4 linked regions of the Homo sapiens genome follow. The protein of the gene in region 2 purifies or fractionates together with the protein of the main gene of each other region. This does not show direct contact. Each region holds a gene or a part of one and is shown on either strand. Other genes may lie near its edges. The genes, in order: CDCA2, RGPD1, ARID2 and DLGAP5.

Evidence for each region.
Region 1: the proteins of RGPD1 (region 2) and CDCA2 purify together in Homo sapiens (affinity purification with mass spectrometry; one large-scale study listed by BioGRID and IntAct). This does not show direct contact.
Region 3: the proteins of RGPD1 (region 2) and ARID2 purify together in Homo sapiens (affinity purification with mass spectrometry; one large-scale study listed by BioGRID and IntAct). This does not show direct contact.
Region 4: the proteins of RGPD1 (region 2) and DLGAP5 purify together in Homo sapiens (affinity purification with mass spectrometry; one large-scale study listed by BioGRID and IntAct). This does not show direct contact.

The regions. Positions count from the first base shown.
Region 1 is NC_000008.11:25,462,967-25,470,585, reverse strand, and holds part of CDCA2 (cell division cycle-associated protein 2), read right to left. Parts: intron 4,412-7,619; coding exon 4,261-4,411; intron 2,370-4,260; coding exon 2,173-2,369; intron 691-2,172; coding exon 606-690; intron 1-605. UniProt on the Homo sapiens protein: Regulator of chromosome structure during mitosis required for condensin-depleted chromosomes to retain their compact architecture through anaphase.
Region 2 is NC_000002.12:86,939,225-86,947,408, reverse strand, and holds the start of RGPD1 (RANBP2-like and GRIP domain-containing protein 1), read right to left. Parts: upstream 5,292-8,184; 5' UTR 5,173-5,291; coding exon 5,101-5,172; intron 1-5,100.
Region 3 is NC_000012.12:45,725,948-45,734,119, forward strand, and holds the start of ARID2 (AT-rich interactive domain-containing protein 2), read left to right. Parts: upstream 1-3,758; 5' UTR 3,759-3,889; coding exon 3,890-3,981; intron 3,982-4,096; coding exon 4,097-4,190; intron 4,191-5,269; coding exon 5,270-5,367; intron 5,368-8,172. UniProt on the Homo sapiens protein: Involved in transcriptional activation and repression of select genes by chromatin remodeling (alteration of DNA-nucleosome topology). Required for the stability of the SWI/SNF chromatin remodeling complex SWI/SNF-B (PBAF).
Region 4 is NC_000014.9:55,172,447-55,180,065, forward strand, and holds part of DLGAP5 (disks large-associated protein 5), read right to left. Parts: intron 7,254-7,619; coding exon 7,183-7,253; intron 4,891-7,182; coding exon 4,616-4,890; intron 3,573-4,615; coding exon 3,448-3,572; intron 3,027-3,447; coding exon 2,900-3,026; intron 1-2,899. UniProt on the Homo sapiens protein: Potential cell cycle regulator that may play a role in carcinogenesis of cancer cells. Mitotic phosphoprotein regulated by the ubiquitin-proteasome pathway.

The sequences.
Region 1 (7,619 bases), on a different chromosome or scaffold from region 2:
ATGAAAGATTACAGAGCAATAATCAGGAATAGAAAACATATGATAAAATGACAGATGTGAATAAAACCATGTTAAGTAATTACCTAAAAAGTTAATAGGCGAAATATTCCAATTACAATAAATTATCAGAATGGATTAATAAAACACAAGATCCAATTATATGCCCATAAGAGTTTTAAAGACCCAAGTAGAAAAAAAGTCAATCTAAACCCTTGCTAGTAATGTTCACCCAGTACAAGCATACTGATTTTGAGAAAGAATAATTTTTACATCCTGGTAAGACTCTTTTTACATGCTTAAAAACAAATAAAAATATTACAAGTAGTGTTCCTATAACAAAGAATACTTGTTAATATGTTCATAGGTGCTACCTCTTTATACTAAATTCCATGAGCTTGAAAATACTTCACTAATTCTTATTGATCGTAGCTTAAAAAAGAGAGTATCTCTCATATAACAAGAATTCAGAAGCATTTCTACTAGGCCATGAGCTCCTAAAAAGTAGGAAACAATTTCAGTTCCCCCAAATTTTAGCAAATAGGTACACTAATCATAAATGTCTATGAATCGGGCAACTGGCCATGTACTAAGAAAAGATTACTTACCATTTGAAGTCTCTGTGAGCTCTGAAAGGGGAAGAGACTCTTCAACTAAAAATCCAGACTGTGTTGAACCAAGTTTAGATGATATCTTGGGGAAAAATTGAAAGAGTATTACATTTTATTAATTAGAGTACTACTAATGCCTTTTTGAAGATTTGAGTAAACATTATGGATTGCCTGGAAATCTGATGTTCAATCAGTCACCTTCATTATCTCATAAAGTGTACAGGAGATACTTTATCCTGAGAAAAGTGTACACTTTATCTCATAAAGTGTATCTCAAAGTGTACAGGAATCTAACATGAACTATTCATATTAACTGCATCCTAAACATCCCACAAATCAACTTTTAATTCCCCAGGAAAAGTTTAAAGGATATATTTTTGTTGTTATAGCCTAGATAGCTGTATCATCTGTAATTCTTTAGAGAAAATTCTCAAAATAAAGTTTATATAATTATTAATCAAACGCCAAACGATATCAATAACTAGGATATGAAAAACATTAAAGGCTAGGATAGAAAACACATTCACACTAATTCAGAAATAATATCTGAATCATGATGTATGTTCAAACAATTAATCAAAGTTCTGATAACAAACAATTATTCTTGCTTCTGTCCAGTGGGGATTTCACATCAACCTGAAAAGGGCGGAGGCAGCCGAGATTACAGGCGACTGAAATACAAAGGAAACCCACTGGAGCCTGAAGAATGTCTAATAACTATCAAATCTTTGTTCTGCCAGTCCACATAAAACGAATAGGACGAGCACTGGATCTAAGTGACAGAGAAAGTGCAGAAAGGGTTCCAACTGTAACGGTGTTAGGTGTCTCCTCTCACAAAGGCCATGAGGAGCTACTGTGTCAAACCAGAACTAGAAGCATGAAGTAAGAAAAGTCCGTCACGAGAGACCAGCTCTCCATTCACGCGTGCGCGCAGGTCAACTGATCTTCAGTAGTATTATTTTTCTAATATCGCCTTTTGATCGTCTTGACAGGGTTTAGGTAGTTATAAGCCACAAAAATCCCTAGAGCTACTTGAAAGAAGTGAGCAAAGGAGAAATTGCTGAATGGCACCCTGATTTCCATCAGAAGGAAAGCAGTCAGGGGCAGGTATAAGTGCAAGACTCCCAAGCCTGTGGAGTACACCCCACACAGAATCTCCACCTGATCCACCAGCTCCACTGAAGCCATCTGCTTATACCCTGCTCCCCAGTAGAAAAAATACTGCCTAAGGGCAAGACTGTAACTTCCTCCCTTCTTGGAGCATCACCCTCTAGAATACCTCATACGTAGAAGACCCCAGGGCTTACTCTCTTTGTAAGGTTAGTAGTCAAAAGTGAGATCATTATCCAAACTGTTTCTAATAAGTGATAAATACCAGCAACCATAAAATTAACAGGTAGGAAACACACACACACACACGCACACACACACACACACACACACACCCCAGGAACCACAGGGCAGAACAAGGTACTAAAATTGAAGAACGGCACTGACAGCCTTAAAACTGCCTATGCAGAAAACCAACAACTTCATTTTCCTATGCGTAAAGTAAGTGAATTACCTCAGAAAGATCTACAGAAGTTTCAACTGCACATGCTCTGTCTGTATCAATATTGAATATCTGGAGACCAATTACTTTTCCTTCAGCATCCGTCAGATTTTCATCAGAGTCTCTCTGATAGGATATTCTCCGACGTTTGGAGGACAACACTGCAGGGAACCCAGACTGCTGGCAAGCGCTGAGACCTTCCTTTCTGGCTATAAACACAAAATAAAAACAAAACGACACAGGCATAAATGTTTTCATATATATTATATATATTTTTTTTCTTTTCTTTTTTTTTTTTTTTTTTTTTGAGACGGAGTTTCACTCTTGTCGCCCAGGCTTGAGTACAATGGTGCGATTTCAGCTCACTGCAACCTCCACCTTCTGGGCTCAAGTGATACTCCTGCCTCAGCCTCTCAAATAGCTGAGATTACAGGCTCATGCCACCATGCCTGGCTAATCTTCGTATATTTAGTAGAGATGGGGTTTCACCACGTTGGTCAGGCTGGTCTGAACTCCTGACCTCAGGTGATCCACCCACCTCAGCCTCCCAAAGTGCTGGGATTACAGGCATGAGCCACCACGCCCGGCTATTGTGCATCGTAATTTTAGTAAAATCTAGTGCTTAAGTCTAAATTATCAATGAAAAGAAAAATCTACCACACTTTTTTATTCCAAAAAAAATTAAATCTAACTGAAAGGAATGAAAACATGTCTATTGAAAAGATAATACATTCATATTATTAGAATTAAGTTTTTTCAGGCCTTAAAAGGTACAAAGATATACTAAAATACTTTTGCATGTCTAATATGGTACCTCACGCTTTTTAAATGATGACACCTGTTATTTTGAAAGATGTGGTTATGCTCTAATACTCTGTATGACTTTATGAAAAAGACAACCACAACGTACCTGTTTTTTTCTAGCTAAAAAAAAGGAACTGTCTGCAGAATTATAATGATGTAAATAAATTTTAAAACCCAGGAAAAAACTGAAACAATAAGTGAGTCACAAACTACAAATATAAATCGGTACATCTGAATGGGTCACGCACTCTAGAGGTAGATGAGGGGGACTTGTCTTGGGCTAACAGAGCAATCCTCATGGGAGGTGCTGAAATGCACTTAAAGATGGTTCAAGAATTCAAAACAGAATCATTTGAAACCTTAGTGTGTAAAGTACCAGAGAATGGTTATAATGATTACAGTAAGACCAAGATTTTGTCACATTCTGGTATCTGAAATGCTTCGTGATTGGGGGGGAAAAAAAAAAGACTGAAAAAACAACCAAATGAATTACAATCTAAGAGTTAAAGAATATAGCAGATTATCAGATTGGATATATTTGTGTGTGTGTGTGTGTTTTTTTTTTTTTTTTTTTTTTTTTGAAAGGGACTCTCACTTCTTCGCCCAGGCTGGAGTGCAATAGCACGATCTGGGATCACTGCAACCTCCACCTCCCAGGTTCAAGTGATTCTCCTGCCTCAGCCTCCCCAGTAGCTGGAGTTACAGGCATGTGTCACCACGCCTGGCTAATTTTGTATTTTTAGTAGAGACAGGGTTTCACCATGTTGGCCAGGCTGGTCTTGAACTCCTGACCTCAAGTGATCCTCCCGTCTCAGCCTCCCAAAGTGCTGGAATTACAGGCATGAGCCACCGCGCCTGGCTGAATATATTTGTTTTTAACATCAGGGTTGGGTGTTTGGTACTCATATAAAATTTATATGAATTTATTTCATTTACTAAATGCTTGCCGAGCTTAATAATAATCCTGTAAAAATCAAGATTTGTAAACTCAAATTTGCCACAAGCTCTATGGTAAAGGTGAAATGAGCTAATTATCTCTGGCATTTTAAAACTTAAAATTTAATTGCAACCATGCGGAAATGTAGGATTAGGAATGCCTGATAACAGGTTTTTTTTTCTAAGAGAAACCAGAAATCCTTATTTTTGTGTGAAATGTCCCAAATTTTTAATGTTAGTCTCACTTTATAAATATACCTGTGTTCTGAAAAGATTGGCTTCACACTAAATCATTTCATAACTCAGAAGCTTGTCTTTATAAATATTGAAGTCAAAACTGAACGAATTATTTCTACTCACTCAAGTCTGTCATCTCGGACTCTTTTCCTGCCTCTGAGAATTCCAGACAGCCGGTCATTTTCTCGTTTTCCTTTATGGAGTGAAAAGCTGACTGGAAGGCTGATATTCGTTCTCTTAAAGTGTTAACATTTCGATACAGTGCAGGGCTGCCCTGTGAAAGTGCAAAATATACAAGGAGTATTATAATCAATTCATACTTTCTATATTCTAGGCCTACAGCCATTGAATCCAAAATTAAATACAGTACACATATGCTTTTTGAAGATCAGCGGTAAGGAGTTAGTGTGGCAGAGCTTCTTCACCCTGGAATTACCCATTTTCAGTTTGAATAAGGAAGTTTAACACAAAAATGTTGAGAGGCCAGCCTAAGATTATATGGAAGGTGCCAAAAAAACATTGCGCTCTGGGATGGTGCAACAAAAAAGGGACAGGAGGAACCTGTCTATTTGCAATTTTTACCAAATGTTGTGCTGGATGTATCCATAGGAAGCCATCTGCATGGTGCTTGTGTCACAGGTAAGTCTCAGCATACCTCCTTCAGTCCAAGCTGTTTCTACTCAGCACGGGTCTACACATGCCCTCCAGCCCAGGGGCCAGAACGAGACACAGAAGTTCCATACATGCTCAGATACTACACTTGCACTGCTCTCCTTTTTGGCTCTTCCCAGCTAATTTTCCTGATTGTATGGGACCTGGAGGATATTTCCTTCTTAGGGTTGAAAGCCAGCCATTCTCTTAAAATACAAAGTTTGATGGTATAAGCACAGAAGCTCTCTGGAAACCCCGTTAACAGGGTTCCAACCAAAGACTGATAAAATGAAATTTATATTAGCAGGGATAGAAGTGCCAGTTAAAGACAAGTAATATAAAAATTGAGAGTTCCCTTTACATAAAAATTAAATTACAAATGAAGTTCTCTATCTAGATTTTTTTTTATTACTTGGACTACTAACATTTCCACTGATATGAAGTTTGTGGCAATGTTTAAAAATTATACCAATGGGCAAAAAGTGAAGTAAAAATTACCTCCGTTTAAGATATCATACAGAGTAGGCTGGGCACAGTGGCTCATGCATGTAATCCCAGCATTTTGGGAGGCCAAGGTGGGAGGATCACTTGAGGTCAGGAGTTTGAGACCAGCCTGGCTAACATGGTGAAACCATGTCTCTACGAAAAACACAAAAATTAACCAGGCGTGGTGGTGCATGCCTGTAATCCCAGCTATGTGGGAGGCTGAGGTGGGAGAATCGCTTGAACCTGGGAGGTAGAGGTTGCAATGGGCCGAGATCATGCCACTGTACTTCAGGCTGCGTAACAGAGCAAGGCTTGGTCTCAGAAAAAATATATATATATCACAGGGAGAAAAAGCAGTTCATATCGTGAAGCCATGTTTGATGGTGATCTGTTCACACATTTGATTCTCTTCCCAGTTAAATATAAAGCAAATTCTCTATTACATAATGAGAACATTTTACATTGAAATATCCTTGATGACACAAACGTTCACGACATAAACAGCAATAATATTCAAAAAAGGCTTATGTCAATTCATCTAACAGAACGACAGGGAAAAGATGATCTCAAATTCATACAATTTACTTTGAATGTGCTTTTTTTGCACACATATTTGAACATGGTAGGGGCAGATTTAATATCCTAGGAACATGCAGCACTTTGAAATGCTGCTTAAAAAAATTTTAAGTTTCTCTAGTCAAAATTGTTTTTTCTCTATTTTCTACTGGAGAAGGAGAACAATGTTTACATACAAAGCAAATGAAACATTCAAAATGTACTGCTTTTTTGATGTTTTTGTTTTAGGAATTGTGTCGGTCAGTCAACAACCTTCCTTCCATGCACCACAAACTGTTTGAGGGGCTCAGGATCTAGGGAAAATTACTTTATTTTTATTTGAGACAAGGTCTTGCTCTATCAGCCAGGCTGGAGTGCAGTGGCACAATCACAGCTCACTGCAGCCTCGATATCTTGGGCTCAAACGATCCTCCAACTTCAGCCTCTCAAATAGCTTGGACTACAGGCATGTGCCACCACACCCAGATAATTTTTAAAATTTTTCTGTAGAGATGGAGTTTTGTCATGTTGCCCAGGCTGGTCTCAAACTCCTGGCTTCGAACGATCCTCCCTCCTTTGCTTCTCAAAGTTCTGGGATTACAGTGTGAGCCACCATACCCAGCCAGGGAAATTACCGTTTAGAGTGAAATTCTGAAAACATATAAACGTAGTTACAGGTAAAAGAGGTGCTATTGAGAAGAAATATCAGGAATGTGGCTGAGTCCCTAAAAGTGCTGGCTTAGCTAGAATCAGGACAGACCTCTATCTTTAGTAAAATCTGAGTTGAAGCCAAAACAATGAGAAAGAGGTCTAAGGGAAGATGTCACAGGAGGGAGGTACTCTCCAAGAACAAGGGCCAAGGCCTTGAGTGGAAACAGGATGGGGCAGAAAAGCCAGTGTGCCCTGTGAGTGGAAGGAGATGGGGAGAGACTAGAGTGGGCGTACGAAGGCATCAGGAAGGGGTGTAGGTTTAATTCAAGGGATCGCAGGAAGCCATGGGAAGATTCTGAGCAGCCGGGTGAATGATTCGATTTCTACTTTAAATGAATGCCTCTCCTTGACTGCTCTGTGGGATAGCCAATGGATTAGGGAGAACGTAGGAGGCTGCTGCCAGCACAACACACGTACAACATTAAGGTCCTTTTTTTTTTTAATCAGTAGAAGGAGTACACTTTAAATTCATGATACAAAGTCTATAGTAAATGTATAAACCAGGAACAGTCATTCATTATGACTATCAAGTATTATGTATTGTAGGTAACCTTTTGTGCTAGATTTTAATACAAGTGGCAGCACCGTAGAACTGTTTGCACCAGCCTCACCACAAATGCATGAGCAATGCATTGTTTTATGATGTTATATGAGCTACATCACCAGGCCTTAGAAATTTTTCGGCTCCATTATTATGAGACCACCATTGTATATTTAGTCCATCACTGAACAAAATGTCATTATGTAGCACAAGACTGTATCTGACTTTTTAGGGGGATGTATAAAAATTTGAAAAAACAGCTAAATATATCCCCATCAGCAGATAAATAATCTACTCCTCTCCACAAGGTTGTCCCAAATACATTTTGTCCAGGAGACCCTTGCCCCTATACATCAACACACAGTAGTCATGAAAAAATCAGTAACTTAGAGATAAGCTCTTAAAAAGGTAGTAGTGCCTCACCTCATAGAAAAGTAGATCTTAACTAGAAAAAAAAATTGAGAAATAAAATAAAAAGCTCCTCTAGAAAGCTATTTCTATCCAGGGTCTCATAACTCTAAAAATACCCTCGTTTGGG
Region 2 (8,184 bases):
GATCAACTAAATTAAGTAAAGATGTTTTAAAGACATACCATTAGTTTCCAGACCAGCCTGAACAGTATGGTGAAATTCCATCTCTACTAAAAATAGAAAAAATTAGCCGGGCATGGTGGCGCACACCCGTAATCCCGCTACTCGGGAGGCTGAGGCAGGAGAATCACTTGAACCCGGGAGGCGGAGGTTGTGGTGAGCTGAGACCATGCCACTGCACTCCAGCCTGGGCAACAGAGCAAGACTCTGTCCCAAAACAAAAACAAACAAAAAAACCTCTCATCCACTTTTCCTCAAAGCAAGTGAACTATGCTACACCAAAACAAAGAAAGTAAATGAAGATGACATGAGATACAAGAAACAAAGGGTCTAACTCAGAAAAAAGATGAAGGGAATTCTCAAACTGGTGATAAAGGGAAGTCCCAAGAGCACAGCTGTGTAGCAAAGAGGAAGAAAAACCAATCTGGGTTGGAGAAGTCGGTTAGTAAGGGTATTCCAGGTAGACAGACAATCAATCAATCAATCAATCAATCAATGTTTTAAGCTGAAATTGATCGGATTATGTGACCAGTTTGACCACATTTGAGGGTTTAAGTTGCTGAGTTTAAGTAACCAAGTAGTAACACAACATACAAGCAAACCAAAAAATAAAGCAATTATTCAGTCCAGGAAAAACAAAACTGCACAACAAGGGCAATTCAAATGCAAAATATTTACCTTATATTTATATAAATGTTAAATATTCATTTAAACAAAAACTCCAATAACAGTACTGAAACAATGAGGGGCAAAGCAAAGTGTCTGAGGACAGTTTTGGAGGAGCATAATAGCCAGTACAGAATGTCTAAAGTGGGGCCGGGCGCGGTGGCTCACGCCTGTAATCCCGGCACTTTGGGAGGCTGAGGCGGGCGGATCATGAGGTCAGGAGATCGAGACTATCCTGGCTAACACGGTGAAACCCCGTCTCTACTAAAAATACTAAAAAATTAGCCGGGTGTTGTGGCGGGTGCCCGTAGTCCCAGCTACAGGCTGGGGCAGGAGAATGGCGTGAACCCCGGAGGCAGAGTTTGCAGTGAGCCGAGATCGCGACACTGCACTCCAGCCTAGGCCATAGAGCGAGACTCTGTCTCAAAAAAAAAAAAGAAAACAAAATGTCTAAAATGGGAGAAAGGGAATTCAAAATAACAAAAGTATATGTGTGTGTTACTCAGAAGCATGAAGTATAGATGTAAAGGGCAGAAAAAACAACTAACAGCTGTCAAAGGTGCCTGCCTGTAGTCCTAAGTACTCAGGCAACAGAGGTAGGAGGATCATTTATGCCCAAAAATTTGATGGCAGCCTGGACAACACAGCAAGACCCTATTCTAAAAAACAAATAAATAAAAATAAGAGCTGTCAAGTAGAGTTTGAGAAGTAGGAATCAGCTGCAGAATAAGAAACCAACTTGACAGAACATAGAAAAACTAAACAGAAGCCATCTGGAAAAAGAAAAACTAGAGAAAGAATTATATATTTTTTTATTTTTTTATTTTTTGGAGACAGAGTCTCGCTCTGTCACACAGGCTGGAGTGCAGTGGCGCAATCTCTGCTCACCACAACCTCTGCCTCCAGGGTTCAAGCAATTCTCCTGTCTCAGCCTACCGAGTAGGTGGGACTACAGGCGCTGCCACCACGCCCGGCTCATTTTTGTATTTTTAATAGAGACGGATTTTCACCATGTTGGTCAGGCTGGTCTCTCTGCCTCCCAAAGTGCTTGGATTACAGACGAAGAATATTTTTAAGAAGGGCAAAAGCACATGTGAGGGAGTACAAAAATGGCAAAACAAGAGAAGACTAACAAATGAAAGCACAATGGAAGACTAGAAAGATATGATATACAGACGCATCATCACACTCCAAAACTCAGACATTCTAGAAAGCATGGGCAGTTCACAGATGGCCAGTCTCTGCCAAACTGGGGGAGAATATTAACCTCTTTATATTCTTCACAGCCACTGCCTCTTCTCCCTCCATTCCTTACCTTCTATCCAAAGCACCCTGTTTTGTCATTTCACTCAAACCTAACTTTACAGAATAGCTTCACATGTTCCAAAGTTACTCACTAGTTAATCCATATTCCGCTGAAATCCCCAGGTTCTAATGTAAATGACTTTAAATTTGGGGGAAAAAAAAAAGACTCTAAGTGTAAGAGAGGTGGTCATAATAACCAATCCTCAAAATGTTGCTACCACTCCACTTTATTTAATGGAGACGTTATGTAGTTGAAAGAACATTCTAACTTCTGTCTAGACCAGTGGTTTTTAATCTTTTGGAAGCCAAGATCCCCACTAAGAATCTCAGAAAGGCTCTAAACATGCTTTTTTTTTTTTTAAGCTTGTTTAAAAAAAAAAAAATCAGGCTGAGCAGAGTGGCTCACACCTGTAATCTCAGCACTTGTGGCCAAGGCGAGAGGATCACTTGAGCCCAGGAGTTGGAGACCAGCCTGGGTAACATGGTAAGACCCCGTCTCTACATTAAAGAAAAAAGCCGGGCATGGTGGCGCATGCCTGTAGCTGGCATGCCTGTAGTCTCAGCTACCCAGGAGGCTAAGGTGGGAGGATGGATTGAGCCCAGGACGTCAACGCTGCAGTGAGCCACGATCCTGCCACAGCACTCCAGCCTGGGAGACAGAAAGAGACCTTGTCTCAAAAATAAAATAATGGCCAGTGCAGTGGCTCACGCCTATAATCCCAACACTTTGGGAAGTGGAGGCGGGGAAATCACTTGAGCCCAGGAGTTCAAGAACAGCCTGGGCAACATGGTGAAACCCAGTCTCTACCAAAAATAAAAACAAAACAGAACAAAACAGCAGGTGTGGTGGGTACACCTGTGGTCCCAACTACTCGGGAGACTGAGGTGGGAGGATCGCTTGAGCTGGGGAGGCGGAAGTTGCAGTGAGTCGAGATAGCGCCACTGCATCCAGCTGGGTGACAGAGTGAGACCCCACCTAAAAAAAAAAAAATAACACAAAAATTAAAGTCTTTAATTTCAGGAGTTACAGGAACCCTCAATTAAGGTCTGTTTTAGACTCTATCATCACATTCATATTTATACTATGCTAGCAGTTTGAAATTACAATGTACAAGTAGATATCTATCCTTCTTCTCTGGAGGAATAGACTGTAACTTACTCCACTGTTCCCAAGAGAAACTAAATCAGACCCACTGCCAAAATTCTGCTGCACTACCTATTTCACCCTGAACAAGTATCTTAAATCTCTACAGGTCTCAATATCCACAGGGTTGCTGGAAGCGCAAAATAAGATAACGTATGCTTAGTTATGATAAGAGACACAATTATGCTACTATTATAATCATGGTCATCCGTTGAGTTTCCGTTTTTTGGTTTTTTTTTGTTTTTTTTTGGAGTCTCCCTCTGTCGCCCAGGCTGGAGTGCAGTAGCGCGACCTCGGCTCACTGGAACCTCCACCTCCCGGGTTCAAGCGACTCTCCTGCCTCAGCCTCCCGGGTAGCTGGGACTACAGGTGTGCACCACCACGCCCGGCTAACTTTTTTTCTATTTTTAGTAGAGACGAGGTCTCGACATGTTAGCCAGGTTGGTCTCCAACTCCTGACCTCAGGCAATCCGCCCTCCTCGGCCTCCCAAAGTGGTGGGATTACAGGCGTGAGCCACTGCGCCCCGCCAATATCCTTTTAACATCAACAATAAAAACAGTGACTTGTAGCTAACACTTAGTGCTATGTGTCAAGCAATACCCTAAATGTTTAAAATGGATCATCCTATCAAATTCTATTAATGTTACAACTCCATCTATGGATGAAAAGTGTAACTGGCCCCAAATACCCAGCTTATAAACGACAGTGCTGTGATTATTCAAGCCAAAGCAAACTGACTCAAGATTCTGTGCACATCCACCTTTAATAGCTTCTTCCGTCACTCTTTAGATCCAATTACTAAAGTCTTATTGAATCCAAAATAGATCACATTATTTACCTGTAAAGAGGAAAAATACCCTAAAAACATTTGTGGAAAAGGTTAAAAATTGTAAGCCATACTAACGATTTGTAAGAACTTTAGAATTTTTTTTTTTTTAAGCAAAGGCAGCTACCAAAGTGTTCTGGGCGGGGTGGGGGGGGGGCGAGGGAGGTGAGTATGAGTGGAGTTGGACCCTTATAAAGGGACAGCGACAAACACCTCATACTCAAAACAAGGGGACTTCCCCTGTCATTTGCGCCGTCGGGCCACTGCAAATGTCCGTGCTGAGATGCCTACGTTGTCACTCGACACAGCCGCCAAAGCTCACCCGGAGCTGCGTCAGTCCCCACTGGGTTCCTCCAGGCCAAGGAGGTACGACCTCCGCCGCAGCATATAAAGTAAATGTCCAGGACATGGGAAGAAACCCGCCGATACAGCACCCGGGTGCCCAAGCCCCCGAGAACTAGGCCGCGCGGGTACTATGGGGCCAGAAAGCCCGGGCCAGGGCGGGCCCACGAGCGAGCACCGTCGGGAACAAACCGGGAGAAAGAGGAAGATCCGGCGCCAAAGGTATCCCGCCCACCGCGGTCCCCCCAGGACTCTTCCTGCGCTTGCAAGCGCCACGCCGCCCACAGGACTGCGCCAGCCGGCCGGCGCCTCAACAGAGCGCGCCAGGGAGCAGCGCCCGTCAGGAGCCATGACGCCTGAGCCATCGAGGCCGCCGCCGGGCCACGTCGAGGCCACCGCCGCCCGGCCAGGTCGAGGCCGCCGCCGCCGCCCGGCCAGGTCGAGGCCGGCGCCTCAACAGAGCGCGCCAGGGAGCAGCGCCCGTCGGGAGCCATGACGCCTGAGCCATCGAGGCCGCCGCCGGGCCACGTCGAGGCCGCCGCCGCCGCCCGGCCAGGTCGAGGCCGCCGCCGCCGCCCGGCCAGGTCGAGGCCGCCGCCGCCGCCCGGCCAGGTCGAGGCCGGCGCCTCAACAGAGCGCGCCAGGGAGCAGCGCCCGTCGGGAGCCATGACGCCTGAGCCATCGAGGCCGCCGCCCGGCCAGGTCGAGGCCGCCGCCCGGCCAGGTCGAGGCCGCCGCCCGGCCAGGTCGAGGCCGTCGGTCTCTTCGAGATCCACTCACCTTTCCAGGCGACGGGGCGGAGCCCTGCACCGAGGCGACGTACCGCTCCCCGTAGGCCTTGCTGCGCCTCATCGCACCGCCAACCTGGCTCCCGAGACGCGTGAAACCAGCGCTCAGCCCCGCAGCAGTCGCCAATTCCAACAGGAAAGCGCCTGAAAGCCACTGACGTAGCCGGCGGAGGACCACTGTGACGCACTTGTGTACTGCGTCAGCACTGTGTATCCTTGGCGACGTCGGCGCTCGAGCTGCACTCGGCCGGGCTCTTGGCAGCACCCTGTGCTCTGAGGGTGTCTTGCCCGCCGGGCGCCGTGGCTCACGCCTGTAATCCCAACACTTTGGGAGGCCGAGGCGGGCGGATCACCTGAGGTCATGAGTTGGAGACCAGCCTGGCCAACATGGCGAAAACCCATCTCTACTAAAAATACAAAAAATTACCCGGGCGTGGAGGTGGGCCCCTGTAATCCCAGCTACTCGGGAGGCTGAGGCACGAGAATCGCTTGAAACTGAGAGGCGAGGGTTGCAGTGAGCTGAGATCGCGCCACTGCACTCAAGCCTGGGCGAGAGTAAGACTTCCTAAAAAAAAAAAACAAAGCGCATTCTCAAATCCCGCAGTCAGTCCTGCGGGTGGAACACTTAGAGGAAAAGTCAGACCTCTCTATATGCAGGCCCCTCCAATACTGTATTTTCTGTCAGCTTATAAGTGGACCCAGGCAGTTCAAACCCATGTTATTCAAGGGTCAACTGTGTATATAGGAACAGCCATTCGCCTGGCACAGTGGCTCAAGCCGGTAGCCCCAGCACTTTGGGAGGTCGAGGCGGGAGGATCCCAAGAGTTCCAGGTTACAATGAACTGTGATAGCGCCACTGCATTCCATCCTGGGCACCAGAGTGAGACACTTGTCTCAAAAAAAAAAAAAAGGAAAAGGAATAGCCCCCCAAATCTATATATATTTCACTAGCAGAATAACAGAACATACCAAAATTTAACAGTAATAATGTAAAGATTTTCAGCCGTCTGTATTTTCCAAATCTTCAAAAATGTCTATTTTGGGAATTTGGATATTAAAATCTTACTTTTAAAACAAAATTTAACAAAACATTTTTAATAGTGAGAGCCTTTTAGATTTTAAAAGCTCACATTTGTGTAAACATTACAGTCTTAATTATGTGGACAAATATCAAATGCGTTGATATTTTTAACTGGAAATTTGGGCTATTTTGGTTGTGGATAATTTTTTATCCTTTTTGTTTTTCCATATTTTCTAAATTTTGATATAATGAACAAGTATTGCCTTTCTAAAAAAGGAAAAACAGCATTTTGTTTTATTTCAACCATATTGGATGTGAATAAAAGAAAAGAAAAAGATGATTCTGAGCTTACCAGTGTGTGTGGCCCACATTAACAGAAATGACATGTAAAGAAAATCTAGTTTGGAGTGGAAAATCCTATTTTAGGTAGTTGATTTCTTTCACTTGAGGTACCATTTATCTATCCATGTGGGGATAGCCTAGTAGGAAGATGAAATGGTAGGACAGAGATCTTGATGGAAGCCAGTAGTTGTGGCACAGTTCTGAGGCCCAGCTACTCCAAAGGCAGAGGGGGGAACATCCCTTTAGCCCAGGAGTTGGAGACTGCAATGAGTTATGTTCATGCCTTTGCACTCCAGCCTCTGGAAGAGAATGAGATTCCTATCTCTAAAATGAAAAGAGGGCCAGGCACGATGGCTCACGCCTGTAATCCCAGCACACTGGGAGGCCCAGATGGGTGGATTGCTTGAGGCCAGGAGTTCAAGACCAGCCTGGCCAACATGGTGAAACCCTATCTCTACTAAAAATGCAAAAATTAACTGGGTATGGTGGTGCACGCCTGTAATCCCAGCTTCTTTGGATGGCTGAGGCACCAGAATTGCTTGAACGTGGGAGGTGGAGGTTGCAGTGAGCTGGGATCGTGCCAGTGCACTCCAGCCTGGGTGACAGAGCAGACTCTGTCTCAAATAATAAGAATAATAATATTTAATTAATTTAAAAATAAAAACCAAAAGAGAAGATCTGATGAACTTAGAAGTCATATATCTCAGGTGATAGGTGAAACCACAAGTTTGCCTTGAAAAGTGTGTTGATGACAATAGCCATACCTAACAAGTACTTGCTGTGTTCCAAAGCTCTTTTTGTTAGCACTTCATTTGTATTAACTAATATCATTCTTCCACCAACTTTGTAAGGGTACTGTTATTATCCTCAGTTTTTACAGATAAGGAAAGCAAAAGACAGCCAGGTACCATGGCTCATGCCTGTAATCCAAAACTTTGGGAGGCTGAGGTGGGAGGATCACTTGAGCCCAGTAGTTCAAGACCATCCTGGGCAACATAGCAACACCCTGTGCTTACAAAAAAAGAGAAATTAAAAACTAGCCAGGCATGGTGGTACATGCCAGTAGTCCCAGCTATTTGGGAGACTGAAGCAGGAGGATCTCTTGAGGCTAGGTGTTGGAGGCTGCAGTGAGCTATGTTCACTCCACTGCACTCCAGCTTAGGTGACAGAGAAAGACCCTGTCTCAAAAAAAAAAAAAAAAAAAAAAGGAAACCAAGAGAATGAGCACTGAAGCAACTTGCCCAAACACACTCACCTAGTAAAAATGGTATCATTAATTCATTTATGCTGAATATGTTGAAAAGGAGTGCCCAAAGAGAGAACCTTCTTTTCTTTCTTTCTTTCTTTTTTTTTTTTTTTGAGACGGAGTTTCACTCTGTGGTCCAGGCTGGACTCCAGTGGCGCAATCTCGGCTCATTGCAACCTCTGCCTCCCAGGTTCAAGCAATTCTTGTGCCTCAGCCTCCCGAGTAGCTGGGATTACAGGTACGTGCCATCACACCCGGCTAATTGTTGTATTTTTAGTAGAGACGGGGTTTCACCATGTTGGACAGGCTGGTCTTGAACTCCTGGCCTCCAGTGATCCATCTTCCTCAGCCTCCCAAAGTGCTCGGATACAGGTGCCCGGCATCCACCGTGCCCAGCATCCAAAGAGAGAATCTTCTTGAGGAACTCAAAAGACTTTTCTCTTTTGGATAAGCAGTTCATATTTCTG
Region 3 (8,172 bases), on a different chromosome or scaffold from region 2:
AGTACAATCTCATAAAAAACATACTCTGACTCTACTTGGATGCTAAATGTGGTGTTTTTGCAAGAGATACAGACTGATTAGTGGCAATCAAATTTATTAACTGTAAAGGACATCAATAAGAACAGACAGGACCAGAAATTGTATCTTGGTGATCCACATGCCAGGAGTAGCGCGGCAGAGGATGGAGAGTGGAACTTAGCGATTGAGGCGCAGCCTGCAGAAAGCTGCACTTCTGCACTAGAGATTAAATAAGAGGGTCAAAATCAACATAAACTAAACCCTTTTTCAAAGTCATGTAAACACAAATGATTGCTGCAACTGGAAAACAACATTGAAAATAAATGATTCGTGTGATGCATATCGATTTCAACAAACCTTTCCTTAAACCTTTAACGTTACTCTTACAAGCAAATACCGTTAATAGCTTACTTCTGTCTTAATTTTTCTAACCACAGGAAAATTGAAACATAAGTAATCTGATAAACATCAAGTTTTACGTTGATGCTTTTGACCACAGGGTATATACAGTGTTAAGAATTTAAATTCTATCCATCAGATATACTTTAGGACTCCATTTTGAAGATAGCCTCTTCTACAGAAAAGAAATTTTTAAAAGTCAATTCTCCAGTTTCTCATCACATCTTAATTTTTTTAAAAAGGCTTTTAAACACTAGTATCACTCCAAGTCTTTAGCCTTTGATACTTGCTCTGAAAACACACTATCGTATGTTTGTGTATGTACACACACACACACAACAGTGACTTAAAAGTGGCAACCGCCTCTTGAAAAGTAAAAATATGTCATCCCTCCATTCTGCCCTTAAATGAGAAATAAAGACAATAGATTTGCCCACTGCAGACTGGGATACCAGAAAAGACGTTCTAAGTCTCGCCTGAGACAATATTAACCTGCTATCTTAAGTCCCAACTTGGATGACTTAAATTTCAGTGTACGTGCCTCCGTTCCCACTCTTGCCCCATCAGCTCCATCAGCATCGTCATCCCCGGCTCGGATCCCGGCCGCGACCCGCCAGGGCCGCCGGAGTCCGCGAATACCGCCCGCTCCCAGCAACGAAGCTCCCCGGCTCCCGGCCGACCGCGAGTTCCTGGAGCAGCAGCCTCCAAGGTTCCCAAAGCCCACGATTCAGGCGAGCGGTGCCGACCGGGCCGTGGACTGTGGCATTTTAAAACTACAGAAGTCTCACTGCACGACTGGCGCGGCCGAGGTGGCCCAGGAGACCCTCCAAGAGATTCTGGTCAGCTGCCGGGAGCGTGGAAGAGCAACCAAAGCCACCAAGGCGCCGCGCCAAGTCCCCGGAGCAGTCACCTCAGCTTTCCGTTCTCCCTCTAGTTACAATTACTCCACAGGCTTCTGGCGCTTCCTTCGAGAAAATGAAAAACTAAAAACGCGTAGAGGTGGTAGAAGTCGTTGGCATTTTCCGTTTAATGTGATCCCCCAGGCTCCATCCCTTAAGTGGGGTTTCCAAACTCGGATGCATCCTCAGCAGAGGTTTTCCATGTTGACAGATCTCTCGCCTCCCACAAAATGGGGCCGGGGAGGCGGCCGCGGTCTCCTCTATGGGCGCCGCCATTTTGTGAGGCGGCGGCGGCGCGGCGGCAGGAGCCCGGGGTGTGTATAATGGTTGAATAGAATGACCCCCTCCAGGGAATCCCCGGCACTGACGGTTACGTAAGGGGCTGTGCGCAAGTGCGGCGTTTAGGGAATCCGCACAGCCCGGGCCACGCAGCTCCGAGGCCCACATCTCCACTTCCCCTAAGAGGACCGATGGGGGAAGGGACAGCTGACCGGGTCTTCCTCGCAGCAGCCTCACCCCTAGTCTTCCGCGGCCGGCGAGCTTCTCCACCTCCCCGGGCCGGGTCTCCGCCCCTCACAGGCTTCCGAGACACTCACTGGCCCTGGGTTGTCAGGATCTTCCTAGCCACAACCTTATTCCGACCCCACTTAAGAGACAAACTTTAGTTGGGAAATAAGTCCGTTTCCTAGAGTGAGCACCGGAAGCAAGCTGCACTATATTACATAATTTTTCACCTCCAAAGCAATGTTCCCATTGGAACGACTACCTGAAATAACCCATCCAGACCCCTACTACCCTGTGACCTTGGGTTAGGCAGTGACTTTGCCCGTGGTGGCCGTCACTAAAATGGGAATAATAATACGTTTCACGTACTGTAATCTTAATTAACATTTGTAGCAAAGAGCCGGCTCCAACACCCCTCGTAAATGCAAATTTAGGTGGTAGTATTTGTTGAGATGTTTTGACTCATTTAAGCAAAGGGTTTTTTTAACCTTCAAAATATTTTAAACGAGGATTACATTTAAGACATTTGAAAGCAAGGAAAAACGTTTTATTCGGTATTTATTTTAAACGCAGCAATCTTGAAGAGACCTTACTATAAAAATGTAAACCTTAATTATTATTGTCGAAGTTCGATAGATTGCTTCCCAACCAGTTTAGTTAGTTTGCATAACTTTGCTCATAGAATACTCCAGTTTGATATGTGAAGCCAACCAGCGGCAAGATGAATTAAGAGCATTACTCTATTTCCACAGAACTAGGACAGACAGTTCACATTGTATTTAACGTATAGTTTGCTAAAGTTAGCGTGTGGATAATTCATAGAAAATGTGCTAACCAGGCCCCAAAATACTAGCATACGGCTCATAAAAGCCGATTCCTTTAGATTTTACAAAAACAGAAGGTAACAAATTGACTTTATTCCGATCTGTGAATGTTGCGTAGCGTGAGGGGCTACCCCGGTGAGCTTCCTTTCCCTTCAGAGCGCCACACCGGTTCTGTCGGGCGGGCGGGGACTCCGAGGCGGCCCTTCCAACAGCCGGGCCGGGGACGCGAACATCGCCTCCACCCCTAACCCTGGAACAACCGGTAGTGGCCGTTTCCCCGCACCGCCCCCCTTTCCGCCGGCTTTGTGTGCGTGTGAAATGTGCGGCACATTGCAGACGAACCCTAAGCCCGGCGAGTCGAGTCTATTGTTCCCCGCGAGGATCTGCCGGGGCGGTGTGGAGCCAGGCGCAGTGCCGCGGCCAGCCCTCGGGGGTCGCTGTGTGGCACTGGCTGCCAGGCCGTGGCGGCGGCAGAGAGGGAGGCTGGCGGGGAGGGAAGCAGGCGGGCGGCGCGCAGCGGCTCAGCTGCCGCCGGTGCTTCTGCCCGGGGACGCCCCGGCCTCAGCGGCCGAGGCCGCGCGTGAATGTGTGCGAGGGCCCCGCGGAGCCGGGGCCGAAATACACGCTGTCACCGCGCTTTCCACAAACCACCACACAGACCTCCCCCTCCCCACCCCCAGCCCCGCCTGCCCTAGCCCCGCCGCCGCCGCCGCCGAAACTCTTGGGCCTCTGGCCGCCCAGACCCCTCACCATCGGCTCGCCTTGCCCGTCGCCCGCTCGCGCGCCCCCGGCAGCAGCACCATGTTGAATCGCGTCCCCGGGCTGAGCTGCCTCAGCCGGCGGCGCTGAGAGGCGGGCGAGAGCCGGGCCACGGGGAGGGAGGGAAGGAAGGGGTGGGGGCCGCGCTCGCCCCGCGGCTTCGCGCGGATCCGGCAGTCGCCTGCCCTTCTAGTTTCGCTCCGATTTCTTTAAACTTTTTTAGAAATTCCCCTCCCTCCTTCCCTCCTCTCCCCCTGGCCTCCTGCTCCCTCCTTCCCCTCCTCCTCCTCCTCCCCCTCCCTCCCTCCCTCCCTGCGCCGCCGCCGCCGCCGCCGCCGCCGCCGCCGCCGCCACCGCCGGCCCATGACTGAGCCCCGCCGCCGCCGGCCGAGGAATGGGCTCCGGGCTCTGGTAGGAAGCGCTGGGAGCGGGGGGCGCTTTTAAAACACCGATCTGGGTTTTTTAAAAACCTCCTTTGAAAAAATAATGGCAAACTCGACGGGGAAGGCGCCTCCGGACGAGCGGAGAAAGGGACTCGCTTTCCTGGACGAGCTGCGGCAGTTCCACCACAGCAGAGGGTGAGAGCAGAACCGGGGGGGCAGCGCCGGGGCGAGCCGGGGCGAACGGGGCTCTCCCGCCCGGGCCGGGCACGGGGTCCCGGCTGACAAGTGCGGGGCTTTTTCTCTCCCGCAGGTCGCCTTTTAAAAAAATCCCTGCGGTGGGTGGGAAGGAGCTGGATCTTCACGGTCTCTACACCAGAGTCACTACTTTAGGCGGATTCGCGAAGGTGAGTGGAAGTTTTAATTTGTATTTCCCTCTCGCTGGCCTCCTCCAAAAAGTCTCCTTTGACCCCGGAGTGGGCGCTTGGGGCTGGGGGGGTGGCCCGCGGGGGCAAAAGGCGTTCTTTTCGCTCCCAGCCGGTGGCACGGAGGCGGACGGCGGCGGGGCTGTTTTTGGCCTGGTGGCTCGCGTGCGCGCGGCGGGCGCGGGGCTCCGGCGGGCGGGCGGCCCGGCGCCGGCTCGCGCCCTGCCCGGTGCCCGGTCGGGCCGGCGGGGTCTGAGCGCCGCGGCGGGGAATGCGGGCGTGCGGGGCGCCAGCCTGAGCCCCGCGCCCGCCCCGCTCCCGCGCCGCCCGCCCGCTCGCTCGCGAGTCAGCTCTGCCGCCGCTGCCGCTCTAGCACAGGCGGAGACACACAGAGACACACAGACTCTGAGAGCAGTTTTCGTGCAACTCAAAATTAGCGCGGGCAGGTTTAACATCGATAATCGGCTGCGAAATAATCCCGGCAGCCGGGGGCACAGCCTCGGCCCCGTCGCCCTCGGTTTATACAGCTAACAAAAGAAACCAGGACCTGTCTCCAAATAGCCATCTTAGGCTTCAAGGCTAGGCAGAAGCTGTAGGCCTCAAAGAAGGGCCTATGGAGATGGATAGATCTGGGAGAGGGATCGGAATCGGCCCCAGCCCCGGCCCCCCCCCCAACCCGCGGACGTCGCTGTCCGGAACTGTATTGATCCTTTTGAACTTTTTTTTTTTTTTTTTTTTTTAGTGTAAACGGACCGCGTTGAGATTTAAAAGGGGGCGACAGAGGGACTTGCGATTGGTTATTGTCCGGGCTTCAAAAACAAAACAAACCCACCAAACCCCCCCACCCCCAAACAAAACAAGTGGTATTAAATACAGGGCTCTCTGGTGAAAACACAGTGATTCAAGAAGCCCTTGCTTAGTAACTCTTACCGATCGATCCGAAACACCCACTGATGCCTTAGGTATCTACAGATCTCTGTAGAATGGGTATTTATTTCATAGTTAGGTTAAGATTTTCTTAGATTGTTCACGTTCAGACAACTGTGCCTGTGTTTTACCAGGTTTCTGAGAAGAATCAGTGGGGAGAAATTGTTGAAGAGTTCAACTTTCCCAGAAGTTGTTCTAACGCTGCCTTTGCTTTAAAACAGTATTACTTGCGGTGAGTAGTAGTGACTTTTCCATAGTATTTGGAAATAAGGGACTTATGGAGAGATTTGTTTTTAGCAAAAACAAAAGCAAACCTTGCACACCAAACAGTTCTTAAGCTCTTGTTCATTTCAGACTGAGACACATTTAATATAAATAAAGTGAGATTGTAGGAAGGTGAAAGTCTTCCTCACCAATTTCAGGATCGTTTACATTTTTCATACAAAATCATTACAGGTGACACCCCAGCCCCAATCTTGGTAAACATTCTTTTGTGACATTGTTATTCATCGCTTGATACCCACTGAGGGGCAGAAAGGTGATGCTTAGTAAAAGACTTAAGATAGTTAATGAAACTTTGTAACCTTTGGGAAAATTTTTTTCTTTGTTTTGGAAACTCCTTTAGTTTTAAAAATTCTGGCTTTAAGAATTTTTTTTTTTTAATGAAACTTCTTGTTTGGAACAGTGTCATTGAATAGGTTTTTCAGTAGAATATTCCTACATGGCATAACATGTTGGTGGCTTAGGTGACCAGGATTGTTTTGATAATTACTTTTTGTTGAATTTCCAGTGACTTAAATTAGTAATTTAAATTAGATAATTTAAATTATTATATCTTTAGGAAAATGGGGATACTATGAAATGGGATACTATAATCTGGATTTTCTTTCATTCTCCCTCTTCTTCTTTGACTGCTTATTCGGCAAAGTTTAATTTCTTATTCAGTTGGTATGTGATACAGTCTAGATGATATATTTTGTGATTTAGCGTTTTTTTTTTTGCCTCTAGTTTTTCTTCTAGGAATACTTTCATACTGTAATTTATCATGATGCTGTGTTTTATTTTTAAAGTGCTTATCTTAGAGGATCCTAAGTTAGTTGGTGTTATTAAAAACTAAAATGATATTCTTTGTATTTATTGCTTTTTAATAGTGATAGTACAGGCCTTTTTTTGTAAGGTGGCTTCTGCATAATTTGAGTTTTGCATTTATTATTGCTTCAGATGCACTCAGTTATTGTGTATTACGTTCAGCATTCTGAAATAGGAAATGCAGTAATCGCACAGGTGTACTTTCTATTGGCTATCTTAGATTGACTTCAGGCTTGAAGCTGGAGTTCGCAGAACTTTGTGGAGTAGTTATTGAGTTACACAGGAAGTCTAGAAAATATTAAATATGGTTGTCATCTATTGTGTGTGTGTGATGGCATTTGTGTCAGAGTACATTTTAAATTAAAGGGCTAAATCAAAAAGCAAAATTAACCTCCAAAACCGTTGAGTTAGTAGTGGGGTGAGAAACAAGAGAGTTTTATATTCATCGTGACATTCATTTGCTCATTTCTATTTATGATATTGAGAGGAACATGTTAATACATATTCTGGTTTTATGTTTTTATCAGTTTAAAGCATTTGAATTTTGGACTGTTTGAAATACATATTTTTGAAGTTTTGCTTCATATTTGTTAGATTGATTGACTTAAGTTTTATAACCAGAAAGTACTATAGAATATACATGATTCATGAGATGTATATTTTTCTGAAGAGTTTACATTCATACTAATAGTTTTAGCATAATCAAATTAATATCTAGGCTTCCAATTTTTTTTAACAAAAGTTAATTATAAATATTGTTTTTCCAGTTGTCATTTTTATCTTGGGAGGATATCATTAATTATAGGTACTGTTTTTAACTATATAGTTTCAACATTGTAAGTATTTACATGGTCTTCAGATCAAATTGGGCTTTTTGCTCTTATTAGAAGCTGCTTTTTGAACTATGTCCTTAGTTAAACTTGTTTTTCCTCCATATGTCACTCTCTAGGTTTGTTTTTGCAGGGTTGTAGCTAGGCTACTAGGAAAAAAGTTGAAGCATTTGTTTTGGAAAATAAAACCATGTGAAGATTTGCATGGCTTGTAAAGAAATACAAAAGAAATATGCTGGTCAAAACTTAGGTACTACCAACCTTGAAAGAATTTTTTCCTGGTGGTCTAATATTGCACAGTAAGAGGATATATATGATGCTAGCTTTTACACCTTCCTCTGAAAAATCTTAATTGGCAGACAAGATGCCAAGTAACAGCAATTCTATTACCTACCCATAAGATTGGCTCTTCATAGTAAGAAATAGTAATCGAGTGACTTGATAAGTTACCTCTTTGCTACGTCAGATTGAATATCATCATTACTGATGAGCAGATAATGCAGTGTGTTTTTTAAATTACAAGTGGAATAATTTTTTAATATGAACTGCTTTTTCATTTGACCTATTGTAAGACTGTCATTATATGTGTTATTCCTCCTTTACAAGTTTAATATTTGCTCACATTCCCCTGTAAGTTTGCTATTAATTGGATGGATGGCTGTTAGCCTAGTGTTTTATGATATATCTTCATAATATTACAGATAATTTAAATTAGGAAGAGCAAGCTAGTATGCTGGCCATGTATATTTTAATAGTGTTTTGTTATTTTTGATACAAATATTGACAGTCATTAAATATAGACTTGAGTATTAATGGTCTGCCAGACATTAACTTAATTTTCTCAAATATACATTTATTCAGTTATAGCTTGTCTACAAAAATTTCTTAGAGTCTAAAATTGAAAATGCAATTGATTATTTTAACATTGGCATTTAATTTTTACAAATATAAGTGCCTGCCTGTATCAAAGTTTCTCACCTACTCCAGAAATATATACACGTACTGTGTACCCACAAAAATTAAAAATTAAAAAAAAGTAAAGTGCTTACAGATAATGTGTAAAAGCAGTCTATTTAAAAATTGGAGGCCAGGTGCGGTGGCTCACGCCTGTAATCTCA
Region 4 (7,619 bases), on a different chromosome or scaffold from region 2:
ATATTAGTACAAAATTCTTTATTTTTATTTTTTTTAAATACAAAATTCTTACGCTAGAAACAGACATAGTCCCAGCTCCTCAGGAGGCTGAGGTGGGAGGTCGGGAAGTCAAGGCTGCAGTGAGCCAAGAGCGAGACACTGCACTCCAGCCTGGGTGACAGAGTGAGACCCTGTCTCAAAAAACAGAAACAAAAACAAAAAATTTGAGTTGTTCATATTCAATGACACAACATGACGATTAATAAGGAGGCAGAGGGTCGGGCACGGTGGCTCTCGCCTGTAATACCAGCACTTTGGGAGGCTGAGGCAAGCGGATCACAAGGTCAGGAGTTCGAGACCAGCTTGACCAACATGGTGAAACCCCGTCTCTACTAAAAATATAAACATTAGCTGGGTGTGGTGGCACACGCCTGTAATCCTGGCTACTCAGGAGGCTGAGGCCTGAGAATTGCTTGAACCTGGGAGGCAGAGGTTGCAAAGAGCCAAGATCGCGCCATTGCACTCCGGCCTGGGCAACAGAGCGAGACTCCGTCTCAAAAAAAAAAAAAAAAAAAAAAAGAAGAGATAGCAGAAATGGTTTAGTTCTGACATTATCTAGTTAGGTAGATTGCTTAATATTTCAATAACTCAGTGGAATGACACAATGGATTAGCTACCTCTAAAATCCCTTATAATTCTAAAACCCAGTGCTCTAAAAAAGAAATTAAGCTGGACATAGTGGCTCATGCCTGTAATCCTAACAGTATGGGAGGCTGAGGCAAAAGGATCGCTTGAGCCTGTGAGTTCGAGACCAGCTTGGGCAATATCATAAGACCCCCGTCTCTACAAAAAAAAAAAAAAACAAAAAAAAAAACACACACACACCAAAATTAGCCACCCACTGGCAGGAGGATGGCTTGAGCTCAGGACAGAGAGGCTGCGGTGAGCTGAGATCACATCACTGTACTCCAGCCTGGGCAACAGAGTGCAACCATTTCAAAACAAAAGAAAAGAAAGAAATGAAGTCACTCTCAAAAAGTATATTTATAATAGAACAAATGAATAGTAAAACTATAATGAGATACTTACTTCTCATCTATTTGATTTGCAAACAGAATAGTGTGTATTGTATGATATTGTCTCTCTCTATAGATATATGTTGTCTCTCTCTCTCTCTCTATATATATATATACATGTTGCAGGAAGTCAGGGACCCCAAACGGAGGGACTGGCTGAAGCCATGGCAGAAGAACGTGGATTATGAAGATTTCATGGACATTTATTAGTTCCCCAAATTAATACTTTTGTAATATCTTATGCCTGTCTTTACTGCAATCTCTAAATATAAATTGTAAAGATTTCATGGACACTTATCACTTCCCCAGTCAATACCCTTGTGATTTCCTATGCCTGTCTTTACTTACTTTAATCTCTTAATCCTGTCAGCTGAGGAGGATGTATGTCACCTCAGGACCCTGTAATAACTGTATTAACTGCACAAATTGTACAGCATGTGTGTTTGAGCAATATGAAATGTGGGCACCTTGAAAAAACAGGATAACAGCGATTGTTCAGGGAATAAGAGAGATAACCTTAAACTCTGGCCGCCGGTGAGCCGGGCGGAACAGAGCCATATTTCTCTTCTTTCAAAAGCAAATGGGAGAAATATCACTGAATTCTTTTTCTCAGCAAGGAACATCCCTGAGAAAGAGAATGCGCACCTGGGGGTGGGTCTCTTAACTGGCCCCCTGGGCGTGGCCGTCTCTTACTGTCGAAACTGCAGGGGTGAAATAGACCCCAGTCTCCCATAGCGCTCCCAGGCTTATTAGGAAGAGGAAATTCCCGCCTAATAAATTTTGGTCAGACTGGTTGATCTCAAAACCCTGTCTCCTGATAAGATGTTATCAATGACAATGGTGCCCGAAACTTCATTTAGCAATTTTAATTTCGCCCTGGTCCCGTGATCTCACCCTGCCTCCACTTGCCTTGTGATATTCTATTACCTTGTAAAGTACTTGATGTCTGTGACCCACACCTATTCGCACACTCCCTCCCCTTTTGAAAATCCCTAATAAAAACTTGCTGGTTTTTGCAGCTTGTGGGGCATCACGGAACCTACCGACATGTGATGTCTCCCCCGGATGCCCAGCTTTAAAATTTCTTTTTGTACTCTGTCCCTTTACTTCTCAAGCTGGCCAATGCTTAAGGAAAACAGAAAAGAACCTACGTGAATATCAGGGCAGATTCCCCGATATATATATGTATATAGATATATATATATTTTGAGATGGAGTCTCACTCTGTTGCCAGGCTGGAGTGCAGTGGTGCAATCTTGGCTAACTGCAACCTCCGCCTCCCAGGTTCAAGCAATTCTCCTGCCTTAGCCTCATGAGTAGCTGGGACTACAGGCGTGCACCACCACGCCCGGATAATTTTTACAGTTTTAGTAGAGATGGGGTTTCACCATGTTAGACAGGATGGTCTCGATTTCTTGACCTTGTGATCCACCCACCTCGGCCTCCCAAAGTGCTGGGATTACAGGCGTGAGCCACCGCGCCCAGCCTATTGTCCATATTTTTTAAAAAAGAAAAAAATGTACATGTTATATTTGTCTACATATGCATGAACTATCCATGGAAGTATTCACAAGAAATGAGTAACACTTGCCTTCATGAAAGGTTCAAACTATGTGGTTGGGTCACAGTGCTGAGAAGAAGTCTTCTCACTTGTACCTTTTCCTACCCTTTGAATTAGGAACCACATGAATGTACTAGTTATCAAAAAAATAATTAAAATTTAAACGTGAAAATCACCTAACACCAGTTTTCCCCCACTATATTAAGGTTAAAAATTTTTAGTTTTGGTTTTAAATGTCTAGATATTAATACAAAATTCTTACACTAGAAACACACAGACATACCTGAAATATGGCACACCATGGTGGGGCTGAGCAATTCGACCTTCATTTCTTTCAAGTGATGGGACTTCTTTTATTGGAAGGCCATTTAAATTTTTAGTAGTAGCTTCATTTTTATTTAAAACATGTTCTATAAATTAAAGAAAATCTTACATATAAATTTCAAAGCAACAATTCCTAAAATGACAGCCCCTAAAAAGACATTTTAAAAATCCTTTTCAATGTTTAATTTTAAAATTTTATTTCTGCCTCAATCACTTCACATTTCCTCTAAAGTAGCTCTCAATATTTTTTCTTTAAATTTACATTTATTTCCCCTCTTCTGTCTGTATTCTTCATTCCAATATTCTCTTCAGATATCTTTACCCATGCTTTCCCGTCTTTTCTGACCCTGAGTTCACATCCCCAAATGATATGGTGAAAAAGAGCTCCAAACAAATCTGACAAGTAATAATCCAGAAAAGTAAAAATGTAATTACTATACCTGAAAGCAAAATATTTTTTGTATTAACATTATTCTAAAAAATGAATAAATTAATTAAATACTATACCTTCATGCCAAACAGTTAGAGGACCCAAAGGACATGGCAATTTATTTGAATCTTGCTGTATTGTCTTGGTAGAGTAAGTTTTACATTTTTGTGCCAAAATTTCTTTTGTTGCTTGAGACTCATCACTAAAAACAATAGCAAAAATATACTTCATGAAACATGAACTCCATATATCTAATATAAAGGGTTTCAAAATTGTGTCACTTGTAGATCTGGGCTAAAATAGAAATGTTTCTATTTTTTTAAAATGTGTATTCTGGAGGGGAGAAAATGTAAACACCTATAGTGTGAATGTCCATTTTTACTAATTAATTGTAATCAGATTCAAAGATTTTGAAGATTTCTTAATGGAACATAAACACTTAACAGTCTTAGATGCTGCTGAGCAGTTTTTAGTATATTTGCTGCCAGCCAGTCTTTGCAAAATGATCTTGCCTTTTCTTTTAAAGGTTCCAACTGATTTTTCCCTTGTTTTGCAAATTAATCATTTTTGTCTTCAGGGCCAGTTTTTCTAAATACTAAGCCAGAAGAAAATGAGGAAAAAGTCGTATCTGAGCTAAAGCAGTATAGCAATTTTCTTCTTTTGAAAAATGTATGTGTTATAATTAAGTCATTTATTAAAAACAAAAAACCCAAATTGTATAGTGAAAATAACAATGCATAGGAAATATAAAAACTGTCAATTACATTATTGTACCTTCTGAAGAATTTTTTTTAAAGAAAAAAATTGCATGATTCCTAATTAACACAGTTCACTAATAATAACTTTTTAAGAGCATAGACCAAATATAAGAAAGACATTTGGCCGGGCGCGGTGGCTCACGCCTGTAATCCCAGCACTTTGGGAGGCCGAGGCGGGCGGATCACGAGGTCAGGAGATCGAGACCATCCTGGCTAACATGGTGAAACCCCGTCTCTACTAAAGATACAAAAAATTAGCCGGGCGTGGTGACGGGCGCCTGTAGTCCCAGCTACTTGAGAGGCTGAGGCAGAAGAATGGCGTGAACCCGGGTGGCGGAGCTTACAGTGAGGGGAGATCACGCCACTGCACTCCAGCCTGGGCGACAGAGCGAACTCCGTCTGAAAAAAAAAAAAAAAAAAAAAAAAAAAAGAAAGGCATTTATTACCCATCTTAGCAAGAGACTTATTATTAAGATCATATTCTTACACTTCTGTTTTTAAAGGAGTCCAGGTGTAACTGGGTGTCAAAAAAGCATTGGCACTTCTGGGAGTCATAGGTGTTACTTGATAGGTCTTCAGACCATCCAGTGGCTGAAACATAAAATCCTTAGGTGCAAAGGAATTCTTCCCTTTTATTTTTGCAGTATTTATCTCAGGTAAGTTTTCCATTTTTGATAAGACTCCATCTGGATTCATTCCACTTGTTGCATTAGTTTGTGAATTCAAAGTATTTTCTTCACTATCGACTTTACAAGAAATACCCTAGGATGTGAGTTAACAAAGTAGAGTAAGATTTCTCTCTTCTGAGGATATATTCAACCAATTTTTATAGGTCTGAAAATATGACAACAGAAATATATGTTCTATGTACATAATTTGAGAGACAAAAACAGATACAATTAAGTGTATACATGGAATCAGAAGACCAGTTACGCTAAATCCATTGCTATTACCCGGGAATAGAATCTTTTTTTTTTTTTTGATACGGAGTAGCCCTCCGTCGCCCAGGCTGGAGTGCAGTCGCGCGATCTCGGCTCCCTGCAAGCTCCGCCTCCCGGGTTCACGCCATTCTCCTGCCTCAGCCTCCCAAGTAGCTGGGACTACAGACGCCCGCCACCACGCCCGGCTAATTTTTTGTATTTTTAGTGGAGACGGGGTTTCGCTGTGTTAGCCAGGATGGTCTCAATCTCCTGACCTCGTCATCCGCCCGCCTAGGCCTCCCAAAGTGCTGGGATTACAGGCGGGAGCCACCGCACCCACCCCGAACCAATTCTTATTTAAAGACTAACTAATACCTTTTGGGTATTACAACAAATTAAAAGATAATGGAAAATTAATATGGAAAAACTTATTCAACAAATACGTATCTTTTTACTTAAATTATGTTGATAATTACGGCCAGGCACGGTGGCTCATGCCTGTAATCCCAGCACTTTGGGAGGCTGAGGCGGGCGGATCACAAGGTCGGGAGATCGAGACCATCCTGGCTAACACAGCAAAACCCCGTCTTTGCTAAAAATACAAAAAATTATTGGGGCGTGGTGGCAGGCGCCTATAGTCCCAGCTACTTGGGAGGCTGAGGCAGGAGAATGGTGAGAAACCGGGAGGTGGAGCTTGCAGTGAGCCGAGATCGTGTCACTGCACTTCAGCCTGGGCGACAGAGCGAGACTCTGTCTCAAAAAAAAAATTATGTTGATAATTACAATGGTTTAAAATCAGAAATCTAACATTATGGAATGACTATCATTAAGGACCAAATTCTTAAGTTAAATAACCTTAGATTATAAATAACCTTAACACAAGAGCAATACTTTCAATGTGACACAAAAGATTAACCATATAAAATACAAAGCATATTTACTATTTCAAGTCAATTTGTTACTTGGTATTTAAATAATTTCTAGAGGTTTCCAGGTTTCTGATTTTTAATAAGATATGAACTCAAACCCAGGTATTTCAACCTGGACAAGAGTTTAAGTGGTAACACTGTTGAAGCCAGCATGGCAGTCAAAGCAAAAACTAGTGATAATCCTTAAGGGTTAATCTTAAGGGGGGACCTATAAGGTCCAGCTGCTTTATCTGTGAAGATTCACTGTGTGTTTCCTTTCTTGATCTGTGTTTGATTTTTTACTAAGAATCTAGCCAGGTTACTTAATCTTTGGTACTTTTTTTAAATTAAGAAATTATACTGGCCAGGCGTGGTGGCTCACGCCTGTAATCCCAGCACTTTGGGAGGCCGAAGTAGGTGGATCACCTGAGGTCGGGAGTTCAAGACCAGCCTGGCCAACATGGTGAAACCTCGTCTCTACTAAAAATACAAAAATCAGATGGGCGTGGTGGTGCACGTCTGTAATCCCAACTACTCGGGAGGCTGAGGCAGGAGAATCACTTGAACCCGGGGAGCGGAAGGTGCAGTGAGCCAAGATCGCGCCATTGCACTCGAGCCTGGGCGACAGAGTGAGACTCTGTCTCAAAAAATAAAATAAAAGAAAATAAACTATATCATAGATTATAGGCCAAGGGGTTGGGTCCTCAAATGGGGCATCTTTTTTGAAGACCTTATTAGAAACCATGCTAGATGCAGGCAGAAATTTTAGTTTATTTAATTCTTACAACTACTCTATGCAGGTATTCCATGTTAGGAATAAGAAAAGAAGCTCATAAACTACATAACTTGCCCAGGGTTATGCAACTAATTGGAAGCAGAGAGAGTATTCAAACCCAGGCCTAAATGAATCCAAAGTCAATGCATTTCACCCCACTTCACCCTATGTCTTGGCTAATTCCCACATACAGGTTTCTCTCAGCTGTGTTTTTATTATTTTTCTCCATCTTCTAACAAAATTATGCTTTCTCTACCTATAAAGCTCTGAAAATAAGATACCTGAAAAATAACAAGAGTAAATCCTCTTGATGCTTTCTTATGGTTCAGGAAGTTTTAACACACATGTAGGTTAACCTTTTGAAGCAGTTCTTTATGTTTAATTTCAACTTTATGAAAGTAGCAATGAGATTTTCAAAGCATCTAGAATTAAAAAGATGTTTATTCTCTACCTTGTCGGGTTTTGTTTCTACATTTTTGGCAGGTCTTCCTTTACTTGGCACCTTTCCTTCTGGTTCGTTTTCTAAAACAACAATAAAATATTTATTTTACTAGATAGAAATGCTACATGAAAATACTAGGTAACTTGGGAAAGGAAAAGAAGCAACAGTAGGAATATATGTCTTGAAGGATTTTTTTATTAAAAGCCATATTATAAAAAGGGTTATGGAATTTCCTGCCAAATACAAACCATCTCTTTTCAAAACCAGAGTGTTTTACCCTTTTCATCTGAATACCAAATACAGATTGAGTATCCCTTATCCAAAATGCTTGGGACCAGAGATATTTTAGATTCCAGATTTTGGAATATTTACATTATACTTACAGGTTCAGCATACTTGATACAAATATCTAAAATCTGAAATGCTCCAAGAGCATTTCCTTTGAG